3 linked regions of the Homo sapiens genome follow. The protein of the gene in region 3 binds, or shares a complex with, the protein of the main gene of each other region. Each region holds a gene or a part of one and is shown on either strand. Other genes may lie near its edges.

The links. The genes of interacting proteins can lie anywhere in the genome.
Region 1: PPIE (region 3) and XAB2 share a complex: the UniProt entries of both Homo sapiens proteins name them as parts of the XAB2 complex.
Region 2: PPIE (region 3) and ISY1-RAB43 share a complex: the UniProt entries of both Homo sapiens proteins name them as parts of the XAB2 complex.

What each region holds. Positions count from the first base shown.
Region 1 is NC_000019.10:7,626,524-7,634,254, reverse strand, and holds the start of XAB2 (pre-mRNA-splicing factor SYF1), read left to right. Parts: upstream 1-4,709; 5' UTR 4,710-4,727; coding exon 4,728-4,778; intron 4,779-5,956; coding exon 5,957-6,105; intron 6,106-6,403; coding exon 6,404-6,527; intron 6,528-6,814; coding exon 6,815-7,012; intron 7,013-7,731. Other genes in the region: PCP2 (Purkinje cell protein 2 homolog), read left to right, coding at 635-848, 1,118-1,302, 1,425-1,539, 1,738-1,862, 2,447-2,566; protein PET100 homolog, mitochondrial, read right to left, coding at 2,699-2,782, 3,409-3,432, 3,596-3,682, 4,395-4,421. UniProt on the Homo sapiens protein: Involved in pre-mRNA splicing as component of the spliceosome. Involved in transcription-coupled repair (TCR), transcription and pre-mRNA splicing.
Region 2 is NC_000003.12:129,130,042-129,137,063, reverse strand, and holds part of ISY1-RAB43 (ISY1-RAB43 protein), read left to right. Parts: intron 1-2,109; coding exon 2,110-2,232; intron 2,233-2,868; coding exon 2,869-2,990; intron 2,991-6,427; coding exon 6,428-6,514; intron 6,515-6,875; coding exon 6,876-6,976; coding exon of another isoform or gene 6,977-6,983; exon of another isoform or gene 6,984-7,022. Other genes in the region: pre-mRNA-splicing factor ISY1 homolog, read left to right, coding at 2,110-2,232, 2,869-2,990, 6,428-6,514, 6,876-6,983. UniProt on the Homo sapiens protein: Component of the spliceosome C complex required for the selective processing of microRNAs during embryonic stem cell differentiation. Required for the biogenesis of all miRNAs from the pri-miR-17-92 primary transcript except miR-92a.
Region 3 is NC_000001.11:39,734,656-39,741,897, forward strand, and holds the start of PPIE (peptidyl-prolyl cis-trans isomerase E), read left to right. Parts: upstream 1-4,226; 5' UTR 4,227-4,245; coding exon 4,246-4,276; exon of another isoform or gene 4,277-4,638; intron 4,639-5,509; coding exon 5,510-5,608; intron 5,609-6,710; coding exon 6,711-6,754; intron 6,755-7,239; coding exon 7,240-7,242. UniProt on the Homo sapiens protein: Involved in pre-mRNA splicing as component of the spliceosome. Combines RNA-binding and PPIase activities.

The DNA of each region.
Region 1 (7,731 bases), on a different chromosome or scaffold from region 3:
GGGAAAGCCACAGTGGCTCGGGGGAAAAGGCAGGGACGTCCTCTCCCCGCCTGCCTCTGTCCCCAGGGAGTCTCGCCTCCTGTTCCCACCTGGGGCTAGGGTGATAGAGGAGAGGAGATAGCTCAACCTGGCATTTAGGTGGTGTGGGAACAGGAGACCCCAGACTTTCTTGTTTTGGGGTCTGGGGCAGGCAACCAGGCTCCAGGGACAGTGAGTTGAAGGAAGGGTGGCTGGGAGACCCCTTGACTTGCTGCCAAGGAGACAGAGCTGGAGCTAGGGTGGCCGGTGGTGTCTGAGGCAGGTGCAGAGAGGGAGGGAGGGAAGGGGCCTTTGACTCCAACCTCCTTTTTCTGTACCGACTGCAGGTGGCAGCTGCCCTTTCAGGAGCCAGTGGGGGAACCTGGGTGGCTGGGTGGGGACACCTGCAAGTCCTCCCTAAGCCAGCTACCACCCTACACTGTTGGCCTCCCTTCTCCAACTGTGGGGATGCTGCTCAGGCCTTTTGTGACATCACACCTGAGAGTCCCTGGGGTCCAGTCATTGCTGCTGGGCACAGCGAGGTCCAAGCTCAGGTCGCCCTGCCCCCTACCCACCATGCCAGATCCAGCATCGTTGTGGGCAAACAATTATCTGGATGATCTTTATGGGGCTTAAGCTTGGGTGGGAGCAGATGGGGCATGAGCTGGGGATTTGGGGATGGGGGGAATCCACACCCCCACGTCCTGGACGTTTAAAAGGCCCTCTCTGGCACTGGGCCGGGGCAGAGGCCAGCAGAAAAGTGACTGGAGTCCAGGGACATGATGGATCAGGAGGAGAAGACGGAGGAAGGCTCAGGCCCCTGTGCCGAGGTGAGAGGGCCCTGCCCCCACCCCACCCCCAGCTCAAGGTCTCAGAGCCCATGATTGACAAGACTAGTTTGTAGGGCACCTAATTAACGAGTGAGTCTCCTAGGACCCCCTGACCCAGTTGTGGCTGTAGAAAGGGGCTGGTGGGCTTGGGGGTCTGAGTGCCAGGCCCCAGGGCAGAGGGCAGGGCTCTCCGTGTGGACCCCTATTGATGGGAGATGCTGGGACCTGGGGGTAGCTCCTGGGCCATGTTTCCCTGATTCGTGTCCCAGCTCCCAGGCCACACTCATCAGGCCCCAATCTAGGACGGCGGGACACGCATCGGAGCCTGTCCCTTGAAGCGGTACCACGTGAAGTGGCACTGCTGGCCAGGGCCCCTGGGGCGGGGGCCGGGATTGGGAAGGAGACTCATGTCTCATTCAGAACAGCTCTGCAGAGAGGATCGGCGGGGACCATGGTGAGAGCTGAGGAAGTGGGGACGGCAGGCCCCGGGGTCAGGGTGTGAGCAAGCTGGCTAGGAAGTTTGGGGAGGGGCCCCCAAGCTGAAGGGCCAACCAGACTGAGCGAGTCTGTCCCCAGGCGGGCTCCCCAGACCAGGAGGGCTTCTTCAATCTGCTGAGCCACGTGCAGGGCGACCGGATGGAGGGACAGCGCTGTTCACTGCAAGCCGGGCCGGGCCAGACCACCAAGAGCCGTGAGCATGGGCACGGGGGTGCTGTCCATGGGGCGTGAACGGGGTGGGAGTGCAGGGCAAGTGGTCATCTGGAGGGCCTGGGGGCACGGGATGTGGGAGGTGGTTGTGCACCCTGAAGCATCTGTGTGGGGGTGAAGGGGTAGGGTTGGGGGCCCCCACTCCGGCTGTGTCCTCCCAAGTCTGTGAACGTCCACGCAGAGAGCGACCCCACCCCCGAGATGGACAGCCTCATGGACATGCTGGCCAGTACCCAGGGCCGCCGCATGGATGACCAACGTGTGACAGTCAGCAGCCTGCCCGGCTTCCAGCCCGTGGGGTCCAAGGTAGGTGATGTTCTGGCGATGTCGAGGAGAAACCCGCCAGGCAGTGCTCTCCGATCCTGCCCTCCACCCCAGCCAGGAGGGAACAGGGCCTGCCCCATCTCTGTCCATCCGCTGCCCTGACTTCAGATGGGAGGACCAAGGCCCAGGCAGTGGCTAGAGGGGCCCAAGGTTATACAGGGGCCATGCTAGTGTAAGACCCATGGCTGGAACTTGTGGCTCCTGCCCCCAAGTCTGAAGGTTCTGGGGAGGCCAAAGGGAGAAAATAGGACCCCTTCCTAGGAAAGTATCCCAGGGAGGAAGTCACGTAAGCTCACACATAGGATATATACATCTGTATACTCACATCTGTTGACTTCACACATACACGAAGCTTGGGTTCTGATCAAGATCCCAGCGAGGGCCCCAAGACCTGCCACCTCACACTCAAATGCCACCCTAAATGGCAGATATTGAGGGTAAACATAGACCAGTGCTCACAATGAGGTGGGACACGGTGGCTACCTGCACCCTCTCTCCATTGTTCGCCACCTGTGGCCGGCACTGCCCTTGAGCCCTCCCCCTGGCTGACCCCTCTTCATCCACAGGACGGAGCACAGAAACGAGCTGGGACCCTCAGTCCCCAACCCCTGCTCACCCCTCAGGACCCGACCGCTCTCGGCTTCCGTCGGAACAGCAGCCCCCAGCCCCCGACACAAGCCCCCTGAGGGCCTGAGGCATCCTGGGTCTCACTCGGCCCCCAAAAACTGATAAAAGAATAAAACACTTAAATGAATAACAAGGAACTGAGTATATGTATATTTCATCAGGGGAGGGGCTAGGACTCCCACTTGGAGGCCTCAGGAGTTCTGCTGGGCGTCGCGAAGGAGCTTCTCCTCCCGCCGCTTCCGTAACCTCTCTTTGAATTCCTCTATCTCTTGAAGCTAGGGGTGGAGAAGCGGGTGGGACAGGAAGGGGGGAGGGGCACACACCTCAGAGCCGGGACCACCCCCCCCCGCCCACCTCTCCCACCACCCTGCCCCAGACCACGGCTTCAGGGTTCAGTGTCTTCACTGGAAGCCCCCTGCCAATTACAAAGGGGTCCGCGTGGGATCCGCTTCACTCTTCCAGGAGAAGGCAATAAGGAAACCATCTACTCCTCTGCTCTCGGTTCCTTACTCATGGCTGAGAGTAAAATGTTTCTTTTTGAGACAAAGTCTCACTCTATTGCCCAGGCTGGAGTGCAGTGGCGTGATCTTGGGCTCACTGCAACCTCCACCTCCTGGGTTCAAGTGATTCTTCTCCCTCAGCCTCCCAAGCAGCTGGAATTATAGGCGCCTGCCACCATGCCTGGCTAAGTTTTGTATTTCTGTAGACATGGGGTTTCGCCATGTTGGCCAGGCTGGTTTTGAACTCCTGACCTCAAGTGATCTACCCACCTCAGCCTCCCATGCCCTGGGATTACAAGCATGAGCCACTGCGCCTGGCCTAAAATTTTCATCTAAAACCCATCCCGGATACAAGAATCCAGCCTCCTCCATCCCTCTGGCAGGAAGAAGAGATCACTTACCTTCTCAGGTGGCCACAGCTCCCTCTGTAAGGAAAAGTCACAAATGGGACACGAGCCAAAGGCCTCCAGAGCCCCACATCAGGGCAGGGTCGGCTTATGGGAGGCAGACATTAGTCCCCAGCAGACTGCTGCCCCACACCCTCTCCCACCCCTGGAATGAACCCTCAAACACTCCTCTTATGCCCACCTTGCGCTGTATGACATCGTCCTCAAACCACTCGGCCTGATTGGAAACCCAGAACATAGCCACAGGGAAAGTGAGGTAGATTATCATCTGGAATGGCAGAGGGTGGGTGAGGTGAGCTCCCCCCAAGCAATGTGCAGAGGCTCCTCAGAGCCTGGGGGACCCATCCTACTGCAGAGTCCAGAAGCGCCTCGTTACGGCCGACCCAAGAATCCCAGAACTCCCACCAAGGGTACAGAAACCTCGCACCCTAAAACCTAACTCCTATAATCCAGGAGGCCTCATTCCTGAAAGTTCCCTCTGAGCTGGAGTCTTCCTCTCAAACACAGACAGACACACAGACGCCCCAGCTACAATCAAAAGCATCTCCTCGAGACCTCATTACCCATCCCCACTTAAGATCCCGGGAGCACCCCCAAACCCAGGAGGCGTCACTCTTCAACTCCACTTCTCGAAGTCTAGGAATCTCCCTGTCATAGACACCCACCCACCACGAGCCCGAGAGCTCCCCCAGGATCTTAAGTCTTCCTTCTTTAGAGCCCCCTTCTCAGCTCACCCCTCTCTGAGGTCCTTCCTCGGACCAGCCCTCTCACAGCCCCCAAACCCAGAAGCCCAAATCCGAGAACCCCCCCAGCCCAGCGTCCCCTCTCCTGGATTTCCAACCAGAAAGGTTCCTCTCAAATCTTAAGAGCTTTCTCCTTGGAGCTCCCTCTTCCTTTGAAGTCCCCCCATTTCCAACCTCATCTTCAGATCCAGGAAGATCCCCTGCCCAGCCTCCCAACCCACTCCTGTGTCCACTGACCCGAAATATCTCCAGCTTCACCCCCATCTCGTTTCTCCCGGTCAACAAAGCCAGTTCCGCCCAAAGCCGACCCTCCAGCAAGACAGAAGCTCACTGGTGTTTTGCACGCTCCATTGCTGAAGCTGATTGGCCAATGTGTATCCTGATGGCGCATCTTCTGGCGCCTCTATTCTGCTTCCGGTCGCTGGCGTCGTCGAAAAGAAGTCAATAACGTGGGCCTGTCCGTCAAAAATGATTTAACCAATAGAAAACGGGTCTGGCTCGGAGGGGCGGGCCGTCAGTGGTAGACGTCATAAGCGCGCGACTCTCTCCTGTACCTGGGCATCCAGAAAAATGGTGGTGATGGCGCGACTCTCGCGGCCCGAGCGGCCGGACCTTGTCTTCGTGAGTCCACAGAGGAGCCGGGGGTGGCCTGCGTTGGGGCATTGGGACCTGGACGCCGCAGGGGATCGAGGCTGGGTCGGCAAGGAGATTTAGGCCGAAACTGCCAGGCCAAGGTCTGGGAACCCTAATGGGCCAGAGACCGGATCGTCATGTCCGCACCGAACTGTCCAGGAGTAAAAATATGGTGTTGTATCTTCGGGTCTGAGTAGAAAACCACTGTCGAAGGGAAGCGTCTAGCCTCCCGAACCAGGGGCGGAAATGGGGGCGTGCAGGGAATGGGAGAGGAGGAAGATCGCATAACTGAACCTTGAGAGGTGAAGATCGGTGTCTGAAGTAAAGGCTTGCTTACGAGGCCAGGGTTCTGGTTTCTGGGATGAAGGCTTGGTTTTCTGGATAGCGGTCTCTAGGCCTGGACTGCAGCATGACAGTTTCTGGGGTGGTGGCCAGGCTAGAAGAACCCTGGTGATGTGGAGCTTGTCAGGCGATGGCCAGTGAAATACTTACTCTCTGGAGTAGAGGCGTGACATCTTCACCAGATTCTTGGTGTGCAGAGTTAAAGGCTTGGCTTCTGGTGTATAACTCCTCCTGTGAGATAAAGGCCTAGCTTTTAATTTCTGGGGCAGAGTTGAGCTAGACGCTGGCTAGTGGGATCCTGGGGGCGGGGCTAGTGGCTTGGAATCTGGACCTGAGAGCCCTGGTGGCTGGGGTAAAGATCTGGTCATCTGGGCCTGGGGTGGAGATGGGTCAGATGGTGACAGTGGGAGTCTGAGGGGCCAAAGGCCTGGTGTCTGGGAAGAGGCACGTTTTGAAGAAGTGGGGTCTGGTGTCCAGGACTGGCATCTGGGCCAGGGCCTTGGTATCTAAGGAGTCTGACCATCTGGGGCAGAAAGCGAGTGGTGATGCGGACTCATTCCTGGCCCAGAGCCCTAATGACTGAGAAGTCTGATGATTTGGGTTCGATTTTGGGTAGTTGAATTCTGAGGGGTAAAGGTCTGGGCCACTGTCTTGGTGTCGGGCATCTGGTTTGGTGCCTGGGCATCTGGTGACCTGACTTCCTTGGTGGGTGGTGGGATCTAGGTAAAAGTCCGGAGTTTGGACCTGAGCCCCAGCAGTGGGATGGTGCTGCACACAGGCTCTGAGGGTAGGCCTCTCTTCTTCCCATTCCCTGGCCCTGGCAGGAGGAAGAGGACCTCCCCTATGAGGAGGAAATCATGCGGAACCAATTCTCTGTCAAATGCTGGCTTCGCTACATCGAGTTCAAACAGGGCGCCCCGAAGCCCAGGCTCAATCAGCTATACGAGCGGGCACTCAAGCTGCTGCCCTGCAGGTGGGAATGGCTCCAGCTGCCCTGCCCACCAGCCCCCACCCCACCTGGTCCAGTTATAACAAAACTGCCAAGTGGGTCCCGGGTCCCGGGTGATTGCTTCGTGTTTCATCACTGACCTGTACATCCCTTGATGGGTCAGCACACCTTCTCTGATGTCCCAGTCTGTCCCTGTCATTGCTGAGACATGTCACCCCTCCCACACCCCTTCTTCCCACATTTGCCAACTGGGGCAGGGCAAATGGTTCTGGGGGTGTCCATAAAGCTGACCGATCAGCATCTGTCCCCTCCTATTCCCCAGCTACAAACTCTGGTACCGATACCTGAAGGCGCGTCGGGCACAGGTGAAGCATCGCTGTGTGACCGACCCTGCCTATGAAGATGTCAACAACTGTCATGAGAGGGCCTTTGTGTTCATGCACAAGGTTTGGGGCTCGGCGAGGGGATGAATCGGGAAGTGGAGCTCAGTCCATGGTGGTGGGTGGGGCGGGGACAGGGGCTGGGCTCAGCATGTTAGGGATGGGGGCTTGGATTCCTGTTGCTTCTTTGCATGGGAAGTTGGGCTGGACTCAGTCCTGGAGCTGGGGGTTTCTGGGTCCCGCCGCATTTATGTGGTGGCCCCAGGTGTGGCTCAGCCACAGGACATCGAGTGTCTGTGGCCAGGCCATGGAGTCCGTGGCTTAGCCCCAGCCGCCTCTCCCCACACCCCCAGATGCCTCGTCTGTGGCTAGATTACTGCCAGTTCCTCATGGACCAGGGGCGCGTCACACACACCCGCCGCACCTTCGACCGTGCCCTCCGGGCACTGCCCATCACGCAGCACTCTCGAATTTGGCCCCTGTATCTGCGCTTCCTGCGCTCACACCCACTGCCTGAGACAGCTGTGCGAGGCTATCGGCGCTTCCTCAAGGTGAGCCTAGCAGGTGCGCTGGTTCCCCAGGTTAGTTTCCAGAAACGGCCTCACTGTGACACTAGCTCCGCGTAGGATGTCACCCAGCAGACGGGATGTGGGAAGAGGCTCCTGGAGATGCATGTGTTTTGTTGTTGTCCGTGATTCATGTCTTTATTTTCCAAATAGTTTGTTCACACTGGTTTCACATTAGGCATAGCGATGGGTGCTGAGGACAGTGTGACTAAGACACTCCCTGCCTGCACGGAGCTTTTAGTCTAAGTAGGAAGACAGATGCATATGAGCTGATGGCATGAACTAGAGTAAAACCACAGCCATGAAGAGGGCCAGGAATAGGGGTGGGGAGAAGCAGGCAGGGTGGAGAGTGGAAGCACCAGCCGGGCGGGAGTGGGGCATGGTTTGCTCAAACTTAAAGTATCTGTTTTATGACGTTTGGATTCTAAGCTGGACCAGTCAGGACTGAGGCTGGACCCGTGGGGCCCAGGCTGGACACTATAGTCAAGGCTGGACCCATGGGATCAAGGCTGACCCAAAGGGGCCAAGGCTAGACCAGTCAGGACTGAGGCTGGACTAGTGGAGCCAAGGCTGGACCCATTGTGGGTTGGGGGTCAATTCTAACCCAAAAGGACCAAGGCTGGACCATTGGGGCTGAGACTGGACCACCGCAGTCAAGGCTGTGCCCTTGCGGGTCAAGGCTAACCCAAAAAGTCCACAGCTGG
Region 2 (7,022 bases), on a different chromosome or scaffold from region 3:
AATTAGCTGGGCATGGTGGCGGGCACCTGTAATCCCAGCTACTTGGGAGGCTGAGGCAGGAGAATGGCGTGAACCCAGGAGGCGGAGCTTGCAGTGAACTGAGATCGCGCCATTGCACTCCAGCCTGGGCAACAGAGTGAGGCTCTGTCTAAAAAAATAAAATTAAAAAATAAAAAATAAAAAAAAAAAGAAGAAGAAAATACAAAATTAGCTGGGCATGGTGGCAGGTGCCTATAATCCCAGCTACTCGGGAGACTAAGGCAGGAGAATGGCGTGAACCCAGGAGGCGGAGCTTGCAGTGAGCTGAGATCACGCCATTGCACTCCAGCCTGGGTGACAGAGCGAGGCTCTGTCTTTAAAAAAAAAAAAAAAGAAGAAGAAGAAAATACAAAATTAGCCGGGCGTGGTGGTGCGTGCCTGTAATTCCAGCTACTCAGGAGGCTGAGGCAGGAGAATTGCTTGAACCCAGGAGGCGGAGGTTGTGGTGAGCTGAGATTGCGCCATTGCACTCCAGCCTGAGCAACAAGAGCGAGACTCCGTCCCACAAAAAAAAGAAAAAAACATGCTGGGATTACAGGCATGAGTCACTGCACCTGGCCAGCTTTTATTCTTTCACCAATCTGGTTGGTTGTCATTTTGTTTTTCATTTTTAATAATTACTTAGCCGGGTGCAGTGGCTCACACCTATAATCTTAGCACTTTGGGAAGCCTAAGCGGGTGGATCACCTGAGGTCAGGAGTTCGAGACTTGCCTGGCCAACATGGTGAAACCCCATCTCTACTAAAAATACAAAAATTAGCTGGGTGTGGTGGCGGGTGCTTGTAATCCCAGCTACTCGGGAGGCTGAGGCAGGAGAATCGCTTGAACCCGGGATGCAGAGGTTGCAGTGAGCCAAGATCATGCCATTGCACTCCAGCCTGGACAAGAGCGAAATTCCATCTCAAAAAAAAAAAAGAATTACTTAAATATTCTGGATTGTAGTCCTAGTCTGAAAATATCTTCTTTAGGGCTTTCTCATGTATCTTTTTTGTTTGTTTCTAGCTTCTTTTGTCTTTTTTATTTACTTATGTTTCCTGTCATGCTTTTTCATTAAACATTATGACAGTTCCTGTGTTATTAAAATACTTTGTGAAATAGCATTACAGGGGCTGCAGGATATCCCATCCCATACATATTCTGCAATTTACAATCATAGGTTATTCCCAAGTTTTCTCTATTATATAAATAATACTGTGATGCATATTTCTGTACATGAAGCTTTTTGCTATCTCGTGTTTGGTTTTTGTTTTTTTTTTTTTGAGATGGAGTCTCGCTCTGTCGCCCAGGCTGCAGTGCAGTGGTGCAGTCTTCGCTCACTGCAACCTCTGTCCCCTGGGTTCAAGCGATTCTCCTGCCTCAGCCTCAGGAGTAGCTGGGATTACAGGGGCCCCCACCACCATGCCTGGCTAATTTTTGTATTTTTAGTAGAGATGGGGTTTCACCATATTGGCCACGCTGGTCTTGAACTGCTGACCTCGTGATTCTCCCGCCTCGGCCTCCCAAAGTGCTGGGATTACAGGCATGAGTCACCGCACCCGGCCTGGTTTTGTTTTTTACTTAGGTAGATTGCTTTTAAACGGACAAATGGGTCCAAGTACTGATTTTAAAAAGGGCTCTACCACTTAAATAATTCCATGAATAGTATAGAAAAGTGTCTATCCATGGTATTTTCTTTTTCTGTGTGATGGAGTCTTGTTTTGTCGCCCAGGCTGGAGTGCAGTGGCGTGATCTCGGCTCACTGCAAACTCTGCCTCCTAGGTTCAAGCGATTCTCCTGCCACAGCCTGAGTAGCTGGGATTACAGGTGCGCACCACCACGCCCGGCTAATTTTTGTATTTTTAGTAGAGACGAGGTTTCACCATGTTGGTCAGGCTGGTCTCGAACTCCTGACCTTGTGAGCCACCTGTCTGGGCCTCCCAAAGCGCTAGGATTACAAGCATGAGCCACTGCGCCCACCTGGTATTTTCATGAACATACGTGCCACGTGTGTGTATAGCGTTGCATCAGGAGACAGCTTCGCTGGAGTGTGATTATGACTTGGAAACTCAGCTCCATTTCTGTTTCTTATAGCTCTTCCTCCTCCCAGAAAGACACGTGCTGAGCTCATGAAGGCAATCGATTTTGAGTACTATGGTTACCTAGATGAAGATGATGGTGTTATTGTGCCTTTGGAACAGGAATATGAAAAGAAACGTAGGTCTCTGGGCATTTTATTTCATAATAGATGGCATCTGTTTTCTGTTGTGTCCTTTGAAAACAGGATTTTCAATAGTGCTTTATGCCAGAAGGGAGTTTTCTTTGTTGCTAATGATCTTCAGGCGTGATGGTCTGCTAATTCCCTGACCCCTGTGAGGCAGTCAAAGCTGTGTGGGCCAGAGGTAACAGGTTGGGGAAGCCATGAGAGCCACGTCTGACCGGTCCCTGTCTGCTAGGAGGTCACCATGTGGATTCGTGCTAATACCAGTGCCCATGTGACACATCAGGCCAGGACTTTGGAAGCAAGTGGTCTGGAGCTGGAGCTGCTTTCTAGCATGCTCTGCCCCTGCCTTCTCTCTTTTCATGTGGACATGTTGGGAATCCACTCAGGTTGTGGAAGTGGGGAGGATTTGGGAATGTTCCCTAAAAAGCTGCTTTGTAGTGACTGAAGGCCAGAGCTGTTGTAGGACTACCATGCTTCACATCCATTTCCACCCACGGGGGCAGAATGAAGGGTGTCCCTTTCTAGAGGGGATGTCTAGACTTTCCCTGCATAGTGTTGGCCTTTCCCTGCATAGTGTTGAAAGCTCATTTAGAGACAAATAAATAGCACCTACCCTCTCTTGTGTTCAGTCAGAGCCGAGTTAGTGGAAAAGTGGAAAGCAGAGAGAGAGGCTCGGCTGGCAAGAGGAGAAAAGGAAGAGGAGGAGGAAGAGGAGGAAGAGATCAACATCTATGCAGTCACCGAGGAGGAGGTATTGGGGTTGGCCCCCTCTGGCACTCACTGCCATCTGTTCCAAGCCATGAAGTGTGGCAGGGAGGAAACTTGGCTCCCAAATACAGAGTCAGGGTTCACAGCCCAGCTTGCTCACCTGCAGGATGGCTGTGAAAACACTTGCGAGATTACAGGAGGGTTTCAGGAGGCAGCAGCCATGAGAGTGCCCTGCCGGCCGTGCTTTACACCAGGGCTTCCTTCTTTCCTTCTTAAAGACAGGCCCTTCTGCATACACTAGAATTAGACTGATAAACACAGAGGAAGCCATGAGCTTTAGCCCATGACCTCATCACTTCTGTTCACGTGTCAGTGGCAGTTGCTCTTCTGTAGTCTAACACCCCCATCTTTTTTATTTTTTTTGAAACGGAATCTGGCTCTGTTGCCCAGGCTGGAGTGCAGTGGCACAATCTTGGCTCACTGCAACCTCTGCCTTCCGGGTTCAAGCAATTCTTCTGCCTCAACCTCCCAAGTAGCTGGGACTACAGGCGAGTGCCACCACGCATGGCTAATTTTTGTATTTTTAGTAGAGACGGGGTTTCACCATATTGGCCAGGCTGGTCTCGAACTCCTGACCTTGTGATCCACCTGCCTTGGCCTCCCAAAGTGCTGGGATGACAGGTGTGAACCATTGCTCCCAGCCCTAACACCCCTGTCTTACACATGGAAAGAAACGCAGAGCAGAGAAGAAACTTTCTTAGAGGGTCATGGTTGGGGAATCTTTGCATATTTTCAGACCTTTTGCATATTTTCTGATCTTTTGCATATTTTCTGATTTATAGGAAATACTCATTATATATCTTAGTTATTACTTTTTATTATAGCCACCATGTAAGTAATCTTGACATATCTGTCTGTGCTACACCTTTTATTTTTTCTATGAAACATTACCAAAACTTCACTGCATTAAAGGAGGTATTCTGAAACAAGGAAAATTCAACATTTGAAATCTCTGCCTCCCAGGCAGAGCTCTTCTGCGGGGCCCTATATTTGGAGTCCTTGCTGCCTGCACAGGTCTAGGTGGATCTGATTTGCTGGACTGAGAGAAGGGAGGGGATCACCCACACATGGATGATGGCTCAGGTTCCACATGAGGAGCTTGCTGAGACATCACTGGTGAAGAAGCAGGCTCAGGTTTAGTGACTTAATGTCACATGGGATATAACAGGCCTGACGTTCCTGCTCATGTCCAGCTGGGCCAGCACTGGGGTTCAGTGCAGGTCTGAAGCAGGATGGCAGCATGCCTTAGGAGGATTTCCTCTAGGTACAAATATTCATTTGCTCTCTCAGCAGGTGTTTAATTCATGGCTCCTGTGAGCCAGCCGCATTCCAGGTGCAGGGGCATGGTGGTACAGAGGCTTGGAGTGTAGCTCATAGTCCAGGGGGAGGCAGTCCAGTAAGAGAGACAGTGAGCAACAGTCCCTCAATAGAGCCTGGTGCAGGGACAGCCTGCAGACACTCTGCTGGGAAGCTAAACCCTCAGCTGAGATTAGGATGATCCAGCGAACTTAACCAAGGAAGGAGGAGATGAGAGAGGGCTCCCAGCAGGGGCGCATCATGTGCTGAGAGATCCTGTGATGAGTGTGAGAGACAAAGGACAGCCCAGTGTGCTGGAGTGCAGAGAGTGGGTGCTGGGTGTGAGTGGAGGCTGATGGGGAGCTGGCGTTGTGGGGAAGAGCAGTGGAAACCCACAGCAGAATTTTTTTTTCTTTTCAAATAATTATAGAGATACAGGAAGTTGCAAAGAGTACAGAGAGATCTTGTGTATGCTTCACCCAGTTCCCCCCAGTGGTTGTATCTCATGTAGTTCTAGCACAGTAGTAAAACTGGGAGGTTGACATTGGCATATTGAGTGTGTGGAGTTCTGTGTCATTTGTCTCCATGTGTGGAGATCCATGTGGCCATCATGACAATCCAGATACAGAACTGGCCGGGGGTGGTGGTCACACCTGTAATCCTAATACTTTGGGAGGCTGAGGTGGGAGGATTGCTTGAACTCAGGAGTTCAAGACCAGTCTGGCAACACAATGAGGCCCTGTTTCTACCAAAAATAAAAACAATTAGCTAGGTGTGGTTGGACATGCCTATAGTCCCAGCTACTCAGGAGGCTGAGGTGTGAGAATTGCTTGAGCTCAGGGGGTTCAGATTACAGTGAGCTGTGATTGCACCACTGCACTCCAGCCTGGGAACTGTCCCCTTACTACAAAGATCCCTGGTGCCACCCCTTCACAGTTCACACCTCCCTGTCCTCACCATCTCTTCTCCTAGCTGAACCCTAACCTGTTCTCCATCTCTGATTTTGTCATTTCAGAATGTTTTATAAATGGGATCATGCTGTGAGTCACCTTTCACGATGGCCTTGACACTTAACATGATGCCCTTGCCATCCCTCTGGTTGTTGAGTTCAATAGTTCATTCCTTTTCACTGCTGAGTGTTGTTCCATATACAGAAAAGTACACACCTGCTAAATGTGTAGGTCACTGGATTTTCACAGGGTGAACACACACACACATAGCAAATACCAGTGAAGAAACAGAACAGGACCACAGCGCCAGAAGCTCACTACTGCCTCAGGGGTCACCCTCCTGACCTCTTGTGACCCATATATTTCACTTGTGTCTGAACTTTACATATGTGAGTCGTGTGTACTCTTTTGTGTCTAATGTTTGTGGGTATTTGTGTTGTGTCCAGATTGGGGTTTTGGCAGATAGGGTTGCTGGGAATTTTCTTGTTCCCGTGCAGTGTTTCTCTTGAGTACATGCTGAGGAGTGGAACCACCAGATCAGGGTAGGTATGTGTTTAGTGTTAGATACAACCAGTTTCTCCAAGTGCCAGCAGTGGATGAGAGGTTCCTCAAGAGGCTTTTGAAGCCATCCCCACTGGGAGCCAGTCAGGGAATGGGTCGTGCACGGTGTCTGGCAGAGCCCAGCAAACAGTGGACTCCTGACTCGCCACAAGACCCCTTCTCTCTTTCCAAGTCCGTGGTGTTTTCTTTGTTATTAGAAATTTGTATTGACTCATAGGCAACCTCTGAGCTGATTATTTTTCTATGCATGGTACATTCTTTTACATTTAAATTTTTTAAAATAGTGATACATTCACAAGGTTCAAAAGTGAAAAAGAATATAAAGATATTCCACAAAGATTCTCTTTCCTCACCCTGTCCCTCATCTACCTTGGTCTCACTGCCGTCAGTAATTTCTATTCTTATTTCCTCCTTAGACAAAAGGTAGCATAATATACAGCGTGTTCTATGGCTTTTTTTACTTAATCTTGTGGGTCAAGTGTCTTTCTATAAGTATAGAACTTTCTTAGTTTTTTTTTCTTTTAAATAGTTGCAGAGTAGTGTGTTTTATAGAGTTGCCAGCATTTATCTAGCTGGGCGCCTACTGATGGACTTTCGTTTGTTCTGTTTGTAGTCGGACGAGGAAGGCAGCCAGGAGAAAGGAGGGGACGACAGCCAGCAGAAGTTCATTGCTCACGTCCCTGTTCCCTCGCAGCAAGAGGTAGGACCACAGCTAAGAGCTGCCTGGGCGCCGGGGGCTTCTCTAAAGCAGACTTCACAGAGCACTGTAGTGGGTTTTCGTTGTCCTTCCTACCCATCAGGGCAGCTCAGGGTCCTGACCACATGACACCTGTCATTGTGTTCAGGGTGTGGGGTCCAAAAAGGGCAGGACCCTCTGCTCTAGGCCATTCTATCGTTCAAATGTTTCCAATGGGAGGGAGTTAGGACTCTTGGAGACTATTCTGCGTATTTAAATCAGACTCCTTGATGGACTTCTCCCACGGGGACTTCCTCCTGGCTGGGTCTGGCAGGGGTTGAGGGGCTTTGCTGAGGAGTGAGCCCTGCACTCTTAATTTCCACAGATTGAGGAGGCACTGGTGCGAAGGAAGAAAATGGAACTCCTCCAGAAGTATGCAAGCGAGACCCTGCAGGCCCAAAGTGAAGAAGCCAGAAGGCTCCTGGGGTATTAGGACCCAGCTGGGGCTCTCCTTGGAGTTCTTCCATCCCCC
Region 3 (7,242 bases):
TATGCAGTTTTTCTGTTTGTTTGGATGTTTTTTTGAGATGGAGTCTTACTCTATCACCCAGGCTGGAGTGCAGTAGTGCCATCTTGGCTTACTGCAACCTCTGGCTCCCGAGTTCAAGTGATTCTCCCGCCCCAGCCTCCCGAGTAGCTGGGACTACACGTGCACACCACCACGTCCAGCTAATTTTCGTGTTTTTAGTAGAGACAGAGGTTCACCATGTTGGCCAGGCTGGTCTTGAACTCCTGACCCCAGGCAATCCGCCCACCTCGGCCTCCCAAATTGCTTGGATTATAGGTGTGAGCCACCACACTCAGCTTCATAGTTAGTTTTTTGAGTCAGAATTTCACTCTGCCACCCAGACTGGAGTGCGGTGGTACAATTTCGGCTCACTGCAACCTCCGCCTCCTGAGTTAAAGTGATTCTCCTGCCTCAGCCTCCTGAGTAGCTGAAGCTACAGACAGACACCACCACACCTGGCTAATTTTTGTGTTTTTAGTAGAGGCAGGGTTTTGCCATATTGGCCAGGCTGGTCTCACACTCCTGAGCTCAAGAAATTCACCCGCCTCCGTCTTCCAAAGTGCTGGAATTACAGGCGTGAGGCACTGAGCGCGATGGAGAATCTATACAGTTTTATATCACCACCACTCCCCTCAAAATGCGCTGAATTTGGTCAAAAACCATTACTTCTCCCCTTCGCCTGGATTCTGAATGGTAGCATTCAGGTGTCGAGTGGTTGGAGTGTCCTAACTTTGACCACCATCGAGTGCTGTCCTTTCCTTGGGTGCTAACCCACTGCTTCTCCTGGTTCCCAGGCACCCCAGCCTGCTGTCCATGTGCAGGCCAGGAACCCCTGACTGCCTCCATGCTGGCGGCAGCACTTTCCCAAGAACAGAAGCAGGTGCTGAGTGAGTGACCCACGCGCCTACGAAAGAAGAGAGGGCCAGAAGCTGGTGCTGACGCAGACACCAAGGTTACTGAGATTCCGTTTGGTTTTTTATGAACTATCTTCCCCACAGGAGACATTTGTTCCTCCTTATCCAAACAATGCATTCAAACTTGGCTGTAAAGATTGTAGGAAGAGATGCACAGGGCAAGGTGGGAATGGAGAGGGGCTGGTGAGCTTCCATGCCCTCTCTAGGCATGCTGTGTTCCAAGCACATCAATGTATTCACCAACCTGGAAACTCCCCAAACCGCATTTAGAGTGTTTATATGAGGTTTCATTACCTAGGCATGGCTGATTAAACCACTGGGTGTTGGTGATTGAACCCAATTTCCAACCCCCTCCTCTCCTCAGAGGTTGGAGGCGGGAGCTGGAAGTCCCAACCCTCTAATCACATGGTTGGTTTCTCTGATGACCAACCCCCATCCTGAAGCGAGCTAGGGGTTCTACCTTGAGTCATCTGCTTAGCACAAACTTAGGTAGGGTCAAAATGGGCTCATTATGAATAACAAAAGACACAGCACTCAGGATATTCCAATGATTTTAGAAGCTCTGTGCCAGGAACTAGGACAAAGACCAAGTATCTATTTTTTATTATACCACACCACATAAAGGACGCCTGGTCAGATTCTTCCTGAGAGTGACCTTTTGTTTTGGAATAGTGACGGGTACACAAAGAGCTCTCCTAATCAGATCTCACAGCCTCATTCCTATAAGTATCAACTCCCTGGTTTGGCATGAGGTTGGTAAGGTCAGCTGTGTGCGCAGCCACTGCTTAGCTCTGGGAATACAATGGGTACAGGCCGTGGTGTCAAATACCTTCATCTACTGGGAGAGAGAGACATACCTGACTATAGTTATAGGGTGTATTCCAATTGACTTCTGAACTTGGGGACTATGGACTCTGTCTATAGGGGATTTGGGTGAGTGAAGCTTAACTAGGACCTCTGACAAGGACTGGTGGGTGCCTCCAGATGGAGAAAAGAAAGAACTCAATGAGCAAAAGCAGAGGCAAGGAAAAAGAGCCCATGGTAAGTAGGTGAGGAACTGATGTGGAGGTCAGGGTTGACTTGAGGTAGGCATGGACCCCTTGTCAAGGACCTTGTTAGCAGCATCAGTGATTTAGGTAGGGAGTTCTAGAGAATTTAGGTTTATTTTGAAGAAAGATAACCCTAGGCCGGGTGTAGTGGCTCACACTTGTAATCCCAGCACTTTGGGAGGCCGAGGCAGGAGGATCGCTTGAGTCCAGGAGTTTGAGACCAGCCTGGGCAACATGGCAAGACCCTGTCTCTAAAAAAAAAAAAAAAAAAAAAAAATTAGCTGGGCATGGTGACGTGCACCTGTACTCCCAGCTGCTACTCGGGAGGCTAAGGTGGGAGGATCATTTGAGGCTGGGAGGTTGAGGCTGCAGTGAACCATGATCATGTCACTGCCTTCCAGCCTGGGTAAGAGAGCAAGACCCTGTCTCAAAGAAAAAAAGAAAAAAAAAATCACCCTGGACAAGTGGATTGGAGGAACAGAGCCACTATCAACTCTTCCTTAGTCTACTACATTAACTTCCTGGTCTCCTGGGTTCCAATCAACCCATCCTGGGCCTAGTGTCAGAGCACTGTCTAAAATGATGTGAGCATGTAACTCTCCTGTTGTAACTTCAGCAGCTTCTCAAAGCTCCCAAATCTTCCAGAAGGCTTACAGCACCCTCATGATGTGGCCCTCTGCCTACCTTTCCCACCTGATATGCCCTCCACCCCACCATCCCAGGCTCTGGTCTTTTAGTTCCTTGAGTGTGCGGAAGCTGCCTCCTCCTCTCTCTGGCTCCTTTTCCTTCAGAATTCAGCTTAAATGTCACCTCAGGAAGGTCTTAACCCCCTGCTCCATATAAAATAGATGGTCCCATTATTTCCTACCACTATGTCAACCTGTAATTTATATATTAGTGGGTTTAGTCCAAGATGTTACTCTAAACTGCACCATTTTGTAAGCTCCCTGCTATTCTGCAGACCTTGGTCAAAGTGAAACATTTCACAGGGGTTTGGGCTGTGAGAAACATCCTGCCTAACCACCCGACCACAAGGCAGACAAAGGCCCAACTAAAGAAACATCCCTCTCATATCTTCCTGGGCAAAGGTCCAAGGGACACCATGATGACATCCCACTGGAACAAGGGCCAAACCGCCTCATCATGAGAACATCTTTATATCAATATCCTGCTAGGCAGCAACCCATACTGCCCAGACCCCTACCGCCCATACCTATAAATTGCCCAGTCTGTAAGCAGTGGTGGGCACTGGCATTAGGCTGGTTCCCCACTTCTGTAGGTTATTATGCTGGACATAAAGCCTGCGTTTGCTGTCGAGCCGCCCTCTTTCTGTGTGTGTGTGTGTGTGTGTGTGTGTCTTTCTTTAACCCTTGCCTTCTTTTCAAAACCTAACACGAGTAGACAAACGTTCTTTCTGAAGAGCCAGATTGTAAATATTATTGTAGGCTTTGCAGGCTATAGCTCTTCTGCCCTTGTAGTAGGAAAGCAGCCACAGTCATACTTAAAGGAATGAGCGTGGCTGTGTCCCCATAAAGCTTTCTTTACGGACACTGAAATTTTAATTTCACATAATTTTCATGTGCTAAGAAAATATACATATATATTTTGTGAGATGGTGTGTCGCTCTCGTCACCCTGGCTGGAGTGCAACGGCGCGATCTCTGCTCACTGCAACCTCCGCTACCTGGGTTCAAGCGATTCTCCAGCCTCAGCCTCCTGAGTAGCTGCGATTACAGGCGCCCGCTACCACGCCTGGCTAATTTTTGCATTTTTAGTAGAGACGGGGTTTCACCATGTTGGCCAGGCTGCTCTCGAACTCCTGACCTCAGGTGATCCGCCCGCCTCAGCCTCCCAAAGTGCTGGGGCTACAGGCATGAGCCACCACGCCCGGCCAAGAAAATATAGTTTTTTTATTTTTTCCAACTATTTCAAAAGGTAAAATTCATTCTTAGCTCCCAGGTTGTCCAAAAACAGACGCGCAGGATGGCCAAGCACCAGAGTTTATCGTTTGCCCATAATAATCGGGTTGATTCGGCCAAGGTTTCCCTCCCCCAACACGGTGCGCACTGGGAAGCGCGAGGACCACGTCCCTTGGTTTACCACTGCGCACCTCACAAGGCGCCCAGTGCATCCGGGTAGCGGGATGCCGGTTGGACCAACGCGAGGGTGGGCGGGGTCTAAGAGCTAAGCGTTGGGGGCGGGGCGGGACAGTGGGGAAGAGGACGGGTCGAGTGCTGGCTTCCGGCGGAAAAGCGCGCGAGCAAGATGGCCACCACCAAGCGCGTCTTGTACGTGGGTGAGCAGGAGGGGTTGCTAGGCGGAGTCTGAGTGAACGCGACCCCCAAGGGTCGGGGCGTGGGGTGGGACGCATCTCTGAACCAGGAGGACGGCGAGCTGCTGTCAAGGCCGGGTCTCTGGCGGTAGTGCTGGCGATAGCTCTGGCTGTGCTTAAACTCCTTCCAAGGTTTCCCACTGTCCTCAGGAAAAAGTGCAGACTTCTTAGCAGTACGCACTTCTCCAGCTTCTTTGCTTTGCTTCCCGATTCGCTGGGTCTCCCGAAAAATGACCCACTTGCCCCCAAGGTTCAGGTTATTTCACACCTTTGGGCCTCTGCTTTTGCGACTCCCTTGCAGTGAACAGCCTTGCCACACACCTCAGGTGCGTGAACCCGAGACGGAATGATTATTCTGACTTCCTAGCCCGCTGAGCTCCAGCGGGCCCCGAGGAGCGGTAAAGGAGTATTATGGCCCTTCGGATCCTCTCGTTCATTTGTTTTACAAACATTCAGTGCAGCGACGGCTCAGCCCCAGCCCCTGCCATAAAGGAAGGAGTTCCCAGACTAGCCAGAAAAAAAGTGGAATTACCTCAGTAGCACACTTTTGATAAGCGCTGTAGTGAGGATGGATCATGATAATATGGGCCTGGCTGCGGGACAAATGACCCATCCATCTGGAGAAGCGAGGGCAAATTCTGGATGCGGCGATGCCAGAGCTGATGAGCAGGAGTTAGCTACGTAACCGAAGCAGAGGCAAGGCCGTTCACTGCAAGGGAGTCGCAAAGGTGTGAAATAGCCTGACACTTGGGGGCAAGTGGGTCATTATTCGGGAGACCCAGGAAATTAGGAAGCAAAGCAAAAAAGCTGGAGAGGTGGGTACTGCTAAGGAGTTTGCACTTTATCCTGAGGACAGTGGGAAGCCTTTGAAGGAGTGTAAGCGAAAAGTTACGGGTTCAAATTTGCATTTTCCTAAGATCATTCTAGTTGGCTTTGTGGAGTTGATGGAATGGAGGCAGGGAGGTCAGTTGTGAAGCTATTGCAGTAATCCCAGGACTAGATGAGAGTCTGAAAGAAGGGCGAAGAGAGGAATATTTTTCATAAGTATGGGTGGGCAGAGATGAGAGGGGGATGTTTGTTTACCCAAAGAACTGAATGGAAGGGTCCTGTCCCCTGGCTAGCATGCTAACTGGGCTGCAAGGACTTCTGCAAGAGTATGGAGATCAGTGGCTCAGAAGGCCCTTGGCTTATTTGCAGGTGGACTGGCAGAGGAAGTGGACGACAAAGTTCTTCATGCTGCGTTCATTCCTTTTGGAGACATCACAGATATTCAGATTCCTCTGGATTATGAAACAGGTGAGTTAGTGTCTCTCACGTTCAGAATCCTCTTACTAGGAAAATACCTTAAAAAATTAAAGTCACATCACAATTCTAAATATGCATTCTAAATATGGTTAGTATACACTACAGGTAAGTTCAGGAAGGTGTCTGGTGACAGTGATCTCGATGGAGAAGGAATGTTCTGAGGCCATGTGGTTGTGAACTCTGAATACTTTCCAGAGTCTTCAGCTGTTGGGTTGAGATAAGACAGATTTTTCAATAGACCAGTAGGGAGATAGGTTTGAACTACATTGAGATTTGAATGTTGTTTTAATCTACCTGATGGGTACCCCATCCCACCTGCACCTTCTTGCAGCTGTGCTATTAAATGAGGCAGCGGGAAAGCCTAGCCCCATAATGGGGGTGGGTGAGGGCGGGGGTTCTTGGCCTCTGCACCCCTGGGTGGGTTTCCCATCGATTGGTATCACAACCACAGTTCAGTTTTCTGTTTACCTTTGTTGTCATTTTTAAGATTATAGTTTTAGGCCTAGTTTTATCATCAACCTTGCATATGATTGTTAGCAAAGTCTTTAAACTCTCTGGGCCTGGGAAATCTTTATTTGCAAAATGATAAGGTTATGTTGGCTTTCTAAGGGCCTTCTAGTCTCTGAGTTCTATGATAAACATTATTGTGCTTGGTCTTTCTAGTTAGTTCAGCATTTTCCTGAAGATAAAGACTGAGCATCTTTATCAGGTTTTAGGATTCATGCTTTATGCACAGTTGATGCGCAAAATATATATTTAGATAGATAATTGATAGGTCAAATGACTTTATTTTTCTAATTGCTTTGCATGCAATGGTTAAGGTTTTAAGTTTGGCTTTCGTAGAATAATTGAATACTTATCAATTAAAAATACAGTTTACTATTCAGCTATGTCCATTAAAAAAACAAAGTTTATTATTGCTTAAAATATTGTATAAGAAGAATCAAGAATGAGATTCCTTCTTCCTAAATAGTGATTGGATAGAACTTCTGGTGTTTGGATACGACATGTAACTGACTTCACTTTGTGACCATCCTGTTTCTTCCCACTACCCCACATAGTAATTACTTGTTTTTGTTTTTCCATTTTGTAGAAAAGCACCGAGGATTTGCTTTTGTTGAATTTGAGTTGGCAGAGGTGAGAGTCTGTGTTACTAGTGTCTAGTCCTTGGTTTGTGATGTTGTTACTGATTACAAAGGAAGCTTTTCACCATTTGGTTAGGTTTTTGGGCCTTAGGCTGATGCTTCCAGAGAGATCAGAAGTAAGTGCTGTTCTAAGGAAAGCGTCTCTCACATAATCAGACTGGACTGTGAATAACATGTCAGACCTGCCAGGCCCTCCCATTCTTGCCCTGCAGAGGAGCTAGCTCATGCACCCCTGTTCATTGAGCATTCTTGCCTGGAAGTAGTGATTATTTCTTGTGCCTTCAACTAGATGGCAAATTGTTGCACCACCAGCTCTAAAATCAGCCAGGAAGTGCTCTTTGTTAGAAACACACAAAACCTAGGCAAGAAATACAGAGGTGGCATTTTTCTGGATTTTTGCTACTGAGCATGTGTTTAGACACCATAAGAAGCATTTGGCTGCAAGCCTAAACTTGTACCTTTGTCTTTCCTTGGCAGGAT